Linked DNA regions of Homo sapiens: region 2 is linked to region 1. Evidence: fine-mapped expression QTL. A gene starts in region 1. The other region holds a variant in brackets. All regions are shown on one strand. Distances are between the middles of the regions. Region 1 holds the start of SPNS2 (SPNS lysolipid transporter 2, sphingosine-1-phosphate). Region 2 overlaps SPNS2 (SPNS lysolipid transporter 2, sphingosine-1-phosphate).

Region 1 (4,378 bases):
TGAAACACAGTGGGAAGGGCTGGCTTGCTTGGTGGCAGCTCAGAGGTCCCCCAGGTTTGAAAGGCTCATGCCACCCTCTTCCCCTGCTCTGGGACCTTCCCAGTGGTGAAAAGGGAAGGCAGCAGAAAGAGAATGCTCCCCTTTCTGTCAAGGCCGAAAGTGTCCACCTGGACAGGACTGTGGCCAAAGGGATGAGGAGTTTTGGGGCACGGGAAGGGGACCCTGGGCTTGGGTCTAGAGTTGTGGTTGTGCCTCCTTCACCACTAGACACAGTTCCACAGCTGGGCAGCCTCCCACAGCTGGACTCTGTCCACCTGCTGGCACCATCACACACTTACGAGATCATTGCTGGGGCCGGGTTCTAGCCCCACGGAGCTCCTAGCTCTCTGTCCTTGTTTGTTAATCACCCGTCATGCCAGGCCACCATGGGGAACTCCCCCCATCCGCCTTTGCAGGCCTGAGCTCAGCGAGCTGGAAAGAGGCAGCAGGCAACTTTGAGAATGAAATCTGTTTTCCTAACCCTCCCGTCACAGTCATTCATACCCAGCACGCTGAAGCATATTTTTAGTCACTTTGCAGAATTTAAAATACACCTCGAAGGCGCCAAGAAACACCAGCTTGGGGATTAACTCTGCTCACAAGAGACAGTGGAGGGGGGCGGGGGGGGTGCCTCGTGCTGTGTCACCCGTTGGCTATGCCATGACTCACTGTGGCCGAAAGCTTCACCAGATGCACCTGCCTGTGGACGTGGGGTCCGGAAAAGCCTCTAGCGGGGAGTGAGCTCCAGCCCTCGGGGATGATGCCAGAGCCTGGGGCAGCTCCAGCCCTGCCACAGCTTCACTGCCTGTTCGTAATGGGTCACGTCCGTGCCCTGGGACTTGTCTGTGAAACACAGGGAATGATTAACTGGTTTCCGAGGGTTTGTCCAGTTCTAACATTCTGTCCTCTGCACTTTATACAGGATTTTAATTTCGATTTTAATTCCCCAAACAGGTGAATGGGGGAGGGAAGGGGGAGATCGTCACAGAGCCACAGCACCTCTAAGGAGGGGTGAAACCGTGATGGGATGTCAGGAACACAGAAGCACCCCAACCACTCTCCATAGGAGGCAGACCCCCGCCCCGTCCCACCAAGGGGAGGTGACCACCCGTGGATTTCCAGACTGAATCCCATCCTGCCATCTGCCCCCAGATACAGAAATGGAGGCCCAGAGAGTGGGTGTCATGTTCAGGATCATGCCACACACCAGGGCAGAGCTGAGCTAGGACCCAGCCTCCTGTCTGCCACTGGGGGCTTTGTACCCTCTCTAGCACATACCTGGAAGTCTGAAGCTTGGAGATGTGGTCCCTCAGGAGGGAAAGCCCCTTCTGAATATCCTGTTTCTGTTGGGCCCCAATCACAGCCCTTGCTCTCCCCGCCAGGGGCTGCGGGCCACTCTGTGGGGCAAGGGTAGGGTCCGGGTGCCCACACAGGAATGGGCCCGGGGTAGGTTGGGGGCTGGATCTGGGTTGCCCTGGGGAGGTGGGAGACACAGCCCACCATGACTGGTGGAGGTCTAGGTTCTGGGCCCTCCCTGAACTGGTTAAATCCGGGCGTGTGAGTATCGGAGGAGCCACCGGCTCTCCAACTGGCGCCCCTGACTTTAGCCATCTGAGACTCCTCTCTCCAGTTCTCCCAGATACGCTAGGCTCAAGCCCTCAGCCCGGCTCCCAGAGCCTCCGCCGGGAGTCCACGCCCGAGGCAGGGGTTGGGTGAAGGGTACTGAGTAGGTGCTGGGAGCCCCGTCACCAGCACCCTGCTCCCAGCTCCGTAGCCAGAGCAAACCCTCTCCCGCTCCCCGCGGGCGTTCGCGGCCGGTCGGCCCCGGCGTGACTGCGCCCCCATTGGCAGGAGGGGCTCTGCCGCCCGGGCCCCCAGTCCCCGGGCCCCCCACCCCCAGGGCAGCACGTGCGGGGCGGGGCTGTGGCCCGAGCCCGGAGCTGATTGGGCGCGGGCCTGGTGGGCGGGGCCGGGCCGCAGCTGTCAGAGCCGCGGCGGCGAACGAGGCGCAGCGAGCTGAGCGGTGGCAGCGCCGCAGCCGGGGCCGGAGCGCAGGAGCCGACGGGGCCCGACCAGGATGGTGCAGTGGCGGCTCCGCGGCGCACGCACGCGCTGAGCGGGCCCAGCCTGGGCCCCGCGCCCCCCGCGCCCCCCGCCGCCCCGATCCGGGCCGGCATGATGTGCCTGGAATGCGCCTCGGCGGCGGCGGGCGGCGCGGAGGAGGAGGAGGCGGACGCGGAGCGGCGGCGCCGGCGCCGGGGGGCGCAGCGAGGGGCTGGCGGTAGCGGTTGCTGCGGGGCGCGGGGCGCGGGCGGCGCTGGAGTCTCGGCCGCGGGCGATGAGGTGCAGACGCTGTCGGGCAGCGTAAGGCGGGCCCCGACCGGACCCCCCGGCACCCCCGGCACCCCCGGCTGCGCAGCTACTGCAAAGGGCCCCGGCGCTCAGCAGCCCAAACCGGCCAGCTTGGGCCGCGGGCGGGGGGCAGCCGCCGCCATCCTCAGCTTGGGCAACGTGCTCAACTACCTGGACAGGTACACCGTGGCAGGTGAGCGAGTGCCCCACCCAGCCCGAGGACCAAGACCCCACCCCATCCCACCACCCGCCTCGAGGGAGGTACCCCAGAGAGCTTTTGGTCTCAGGCCTGCTATCTCCAGGCCCTACGTGAGGTCCCTACGGACCCTCTGCTCAGGCACAACTGGGCAAGGGATGCCTCCGTGCACCACGGGTACAATCCAGCTCCCCGCTCATACACACCCGGGGCCAAGGGATAGAGGAGTCCCCACCCCTGGAGCAGCCCGCGCGTCCTCTCCAGCCCTTGACGGCCCATCCGTTGTCCTCCTCTCCAAGAGTCTCCTCTGCGTCTCTCTGTCTCCTTGTCTCTGCGCCCCCTCCGACCCCAGCTGCCGGTTCCCGGGCCTCCTTCCCTTCCCTTCCCCCAGCCCAGGTCGTCTGTCCGTCCATGGCCCGTCAGTTCCTTCCTTTCTCCGCCGCCTCCACCCCCCTGCGTGCGTGCGGCGAGTGCGCGCGCCCCTTGCGGGTGTGCGCTAGGGAGACCGGGTGTGTGTGCGCGTGGCGGCGCGGTTGTGTGTGAGCGCGTGGCTGACAAAGGCTCCGGGCTGCGGGGAGCGGAGGGAGGGGCGGGGCGGGTCCGCGGCGCCTGGGGACCCAGGCTGCGGTTTGCAGCTGGCCCTGTACAGAGGCCTGGAGACGCCTCCCCCTGCTCTATGGTGCTTGGGGTGTAGGGTAGGGCGCAGGCCTCTGGAGCTAGAGACGTGGAGCCTCATCCTCAGGGAGCATCTCTGGGAATCAGCCTTGGGGACGGGATTGGGATCGATAGAACAACTGGGTTCTAGCCCCAGCTTTGCTCCTAATGTGCTTGGTGTGTGACCTTGGGCCAGTCTCAGCGTGTGTTTAGGTCTGTTTGCCCGTTTGTGAGTTGATTGATCATTGGGCCTTTGGGGGACGCACGTGGTTCTGGAATTGCCTTCTGCTGGCTCCCTTCCCCAGCAATTAGGGGTGGGTCTAGGGGTAAGAATTTGCCCTAGACTGAGCTGCTACTGGTTGGGAATGGTGGAGCTTTGAGAGGGAAGGACTTTGGCCAGACTGGCATAGGAAGGGGCTCCCTGCAGGAGGAGAGCAGTACTGTGTGCCTGGCATGCTGGCCCAGAACCTGCGTAACTATAGCTTAGTAAAATCTGGAGCTATCAAACACACACACAACAGAGAGAGAGAGGAGATAGGAGAGAGGGAAGGATTTATTTTTGGACAGACTCTAAAGAGAACTTTGCGGCAATTGAGGGAAGAGAGCCCGGGCATAAACCACATGCCACCTGGTGCCTTCTCTGGGCCTCAGTCTCCCCGTCTGTTGAATGGAGTTTTGTGTCAAATGGAAGGGAAGAATTCTGATGGGAGGGCAGAGGCTTCCCCCTCCCCCCATTCCTGCTTTCAACCCCCCTTGGCTCTCTGTCCTTCCGCTGGAGGAAATTGGAAGTGGGTACCAGTGGCATCAGTTTCTGGGTCGAGCTATCCCAAAGAGAAACTTACTTTGGTCTAGAGAGCAGGAATATTGAGCACCTCCCAAAAACGCCAGCCGCTGTCACGCATGCACCATGCTGCCGGGGACCTGGGAGCATAAGCGCCATCCTTTGGGGGAGAAATCAGAGAATACCTGGGACCTGTAGTCAGTTCACAAAAGGCTTCTGTACACAGATAGGGGGACCAATGTCCCTGTACAGCCCCCGTTCAAGATGGCCAGGAAAGTGACTGGCAAAGCTGGTGTTAGCTCTAACAGTAAGGCTCTGCCTGGGAGGAGGTCTTCCCACCCTTTCTCAGCTGAAGA
Region 2 (4,378 bases), 21 kb after region 1:
AAGGATAGGACTTGTAAGACAAGAACAGAACATTATGAAAAGAGAACCGGAAAATGTTTAAAAGACTAATATTCGAAAATACCAGAAGTGAAAAATATGTATTAAAATAAAAAATGGAATAATTAGGTGAGTTAATGAGTAGACTACACCTAGTTGAAAAGAAAAGTGAATTAGAAGCTAGATCTGAGGAAATCAGCGTCAATGCAACACAGGGAAGGGTGAGGGAGAACGAAGGCTGTTTGTGGCACTGCCTGACTCGAGTGGCCTGTGGCCCATTGGCCATGGGTTGGCGTATGGGGAGAACAGAAGGAGAAGAGGCTGGACAGTGGGCAGGGTCTGAGTGTGAAAGGCTTGAAGGCCAAGATAAGGCATGTAGGTTTTGTCTTGGGGCAGTAGGGAGCCAGAGAAGGTTTTGGAACAGGGCAGTCCGTGTAAAATGTGTGTCTCGGGCCGGGCGCGGTGGCTCACGCCTGTAATCCCAGCACTTTGGGAGGCTGAGGCGGGTGGATCACGAGGTCAGGAGATCGAGACCATCCTGGCTAACATGGTGAAACCCCGTCTCTGCTAAAAATACAAAAAATTAGCCGGGTGTGGTGGCGGGTGCCTGTAATCCCGCTACTCGGGAGACTGAGGCAGGGGAATGGCATGAACCCAGGAGGCGGAGCTTGCAGTGAGCCGAGATCGCGCCACTGCACTCCAGCCTGGGCGACAGAGCGAGACTCCGTCTCAAAAACAAAACAAAAACAAACAAACAAAAAAGATGTGTGTCTCAGGATATTCATTCTGGGACCAAGTGTGGGAAGGGGCAGCAGAGGAAGCTGAAGGCTACTCAGGGCCGGGGTTTGTAGGCTCACGAGGAAGTGCCAGGATGGGGATGGGGGAACGGAGGGAGAGTGGGGACAGAGGAAGAGCCAGCTCAAACCGAAACCAGACAGTGCCTCTGTTTTGGGGGTAAGTCTCCTTCTGCCTGTTCTCCCCTCCCGTCTTTGGCCAGCCCAGCGACTCCTGCTTCAGCAGACTTGGGTTCTGAAGGCACAGCCGGGCAGCCCCTGCGGCTGTTCCCCAAAGCCCTCCTTTTCAAGGAGTGGCCCCAAAACCTCATTCACCCTGAGGCCTGAGAGCCCAACACAAGGTTTACATCCTGAGTAGGGGATCACAGAGCAGGTGTTCCCGTCCTTCCACCGGGAAGTCTGAGCGTGGTGAGCTTTCAGGCGCTGATGGGGCCATCTGTCCTGAGCATTCTCCGTCAGCTTGGCCAGCCCAGGCCGTCCCTTGGATGGCAGAGCCTGGCCCCCGCCCCACCCATGCCTGCCTGAGCACCCTCCCTGCCCACAGGATGTGGAGGATGGTAGGTCTTCTCCAAATAACAGATCAGCCATGTAAAAATAGCCGTGGCTCAGCCCAGGCCGAAGCAAGGGCTGAATGCAGGCTCCAAGGCCACAGGGCGGGGGCTCAGGGCTCCCTCAAGCTCAGACTTGCCCTTTCCTGCTCCAAAACTGCTTTCTGGGGTCATACAGGCCATGTGTGCCATGGGGATGGCTCCGCTCACCATGGACAGGGGTCCTGGGGCTGCCCACCAGGACACCGAGGGCCCGTGGGGGTTCTGAGCTCTGGGCTGCCGTGAGAGGTGGACAGCACTGGCTTTCTGACGGCCTCCTGCCAGCCTGGCGAGGAGGAGGGAGTGAGGCCCTGGCCCAAGACCCCGAGGCAGGCGGGCTGGTCTGACCCCTCCCTCCCTGCTGTCACGGCCCTGCCCGCTCGGCCCTGGCTCCCTGCCCTGCCTCTCCATTGTCCTAGACCTGTGGGCTCAGCACACCCTCCACAGGATGTCCCTGCGGGAACTGCTGGGAAAGCCGCCCCTACCAAAACCAGGGGTGGGGCTGCCAGTCTGCCCAGAAAGCTCTCCTCAAACAAACAAAGACCACGGGATTGCGGGGTGGTGGGCAGGGGAAGCTTCTAGCTTGGAGGCCCAGCCCAGGCTGGTCTTTATTCTCAGCAGAGTTGCCTGCTGGCCTCTGTGTCCCCATCGGACACAGTCCACATGGGCAAGGCTTCGCCTATCCTGTCCCTTCTGCCAGGAACATTCTCTCAGCCCCCTCCCCGTCCCTACCCTGATTGTGTTCAGGCCCCTCCATGGCCTGTGACCTCCAGGGGGCCAGGCGGGGTCCTCCCTCCTGTCTGTCCTGAGCAGAGAGAGGGCAGCAGTGATGGATCCCACCTCCCTCCTGACCCTGGACTGCCATGTCCCAAGGGAAGACACTGAGGGGCAGGCTGGTCCAGACTGTGCCTTCCTAATTTGGTCTGTCATCTCGGGCAACTTCCTCCACCTCTTGGGGCCTCAGTGACCTCAGCTGTTAGATAGGGATGGACGTGGGGAGGATCAGGTGAGCTAAGGGCACGTAGGTGCTTGGGCAAGTTCATCAGGCTGGGGCCGGTGGGTGGGGACGGGGC[G/T]TGCCAGCTTCTGCCAGGAGTCCACCTGCAGTCCTGGGGACTTCTGCCCATCTAAGTGAGGAGCCAGAAACCAGGGAGGGGTTGAAAGAGCTAAGAAGGGCCCGTGCTTCCTGCTCCACTGTGGGCAAGAGGAGAGAATGGAGCATGATGGCCGGGGTCTGGCGAAGGTCTGGGTCACGTCCCTCCAGTCCCTCGTCACCCCCCCGGGAGGGGGCTTTTTCAAGGATCCTACCATGGTGTTGGGGGGCGGGGTGGAGAGAGCGCGCTGTGGTTCTCTGCCGCCTTCTAAACACCAAACCCTGTCCTGGTCTTTAGCCCAGTCCTCCCTCCACAGCCTCATCTCTCGCTGCTTCCTCTTGAGCATCCTCAGGCCATGGCCTGACCTGTCTCCTTGCTGTCCTCAGCAGGCCCTGAACTTTCCCTGACCTTGGGAACATCAGCTGGGACCTTCCCCCTTCCCAGCATGGCAGTCTGGGGAGTGATTTAGAGCAAGGACTCTGGAGTCTGCCAAACTGGGATTTAAATTCTGGCTCAGCCGCACACTCGCTGTGTGACATCACTTCTTTTGGCCTCCATTGTCTCCTCTGTAAAATGAAGAGAACAGAATCAAAAGAGATCATCTGTGCATATGTCAAGGCTGCATGCTGGGCCTTGCCTATATATCCATAAATAATAACTGCAGTTATCATGAACACTAAGCATCATGCCTCGTGAACCATTATACAATATTGCTGATCTGAAGTTTATATTTCAGCGTATATTCTTGATGTTAAGTATTATCTTAGCGGTAAACTCCTATGCATGCTTCAGTGCCCAGCTTTGTCACCACCGCCTCCGGGAAGCCTCTCTTCATTATCCTGGCAGGATCTGGAGCTCCTTGGTGGTTCCCCAACATAGGTTGTCCTTTAAACAGAGCAACCTATGAACAAGATCTGCCCCTGGCCAGACAGGGGGAAACTTCTCTTCTGATTCCTTCTGTCCACTTGCCACCTAGCACAGACAGGCACAGGGAGAACAATTCCTCCTCCTCCCCCAACATGTGTCAGTCCTGATGCAACTGGAAATCTCCCTCCTGCCACATTCTGATCTGATCTCAGGCAGGTCCTTGGAGGCAGGCCCAGCAGGAAAAATTCTTTTTCTAAATGTGAGGAAATAATTTCTGCCTTGACTAATTTAAACAAGGGCCCAGTGTTGACCAAGGCCGGCCTGCTCTGGGCAGGGTGTGGCATTAAGCACCTTGCACGTGCTATCCAGCACCCAGACCCACCCTGGAGAGCTGCTATTTTTATCTTCATTTTACAGATGAGGATGCTGGCATGTTGGCGCTGGCTCAGGCCAGCTCATGAGAGTCAATTGTTAACATTTCAGGAATGGTGTGTGAGCTAGTCGTAAAATACAACCATTGTTAAAAACTAAATGATATCGGCTTACAATTAAATAATTAGAAACAAGGTAATAACTACTCAAAAGTCCTCACTTCCTAATTATTTTGCTGTGTTTCAGCGTTATCTGTGGTCCTATGGTGAGTGGCGTCTGTTCTATTTGTGTGGTAGAAACACTGGACAATGGCGTGTCCCCGCACATCCCTTTCCAACGCCCATCAGTGACACGACGTGGGTAGCTTGAACTCAGCCAGGGCGGAGTGTTTACACCACAGAAATGGGCAAACACGGCCGGGCACGGTGGCTCACCCCTGTAATCCCAGCACTTTGGGAGGCCGAGGCAGGAGGATCACCTGAGATCAGGTGTTTGAGACCAGCCTGGCCAACATGGCAAAACCTTGTCTCTACTAAACATTCAAAAATTAGCCGGGCGTGGTGGCAGATGCCTATAATCCCAGCTACTTGGGAGGCCGAGGCAAGAGAATCGCTTGAACCCGGGAGGCAGAGATTGCAGTGAGCTGAGACGGTGCCACTGCACTCCAGCC

Evidence for each region. PIP is the estimated chance that this variant, and not a neighbour inherited with it, causes the effect. A credible set is the group of variants that fine-mapping cannot tell apart.
Region 2: its variant is the best candidate, but not a certain one, in a credible set for the expression of SPNS2 in whole blood (INTERVAL, PIP 0.64).

Annotation. Positions count from the first base shown.
Region 1 is chr17:4,496,834-4,501,211 of GRCh38, forward strand. SPNS2 (SPNS lysolipid transporter 2, sphingosine-1-phosphate) reads left to right here and starts at 2,048. Exons shown (of 13, transcript NM_001124758.3): 1 at 2,048-2,584. The coding sequence starts at 2,215. It overlaps SPNS2-AS1 (SPNS2 antisense RNA 1), which reads right to left and starts at 1,902. Exons shown (of 3, transcript XR_001752763.2): 1 at 1,318-1,902; 2 at 709-882. RefSeq lists silencers at 1,841-1,900, 1,911-2,060, 2,121-2,170 and enhancers at 2,212-2,847, 2,848-3,482.
Region 2 is chr17:4,517,795-4,522,172 of GRCh38, forward strand. The region is part of intron 2 of SPNS2 (SPNS lysolipid transporter 2, sphingosine-1-phosphate); the gene reads left to right. Among named protein-coding and RNA genes, the nearest start is that of SPNS2, 21 kb to the left of the region's middle. The variant G/T (reference allele first, on the strand shown) is at 2,452.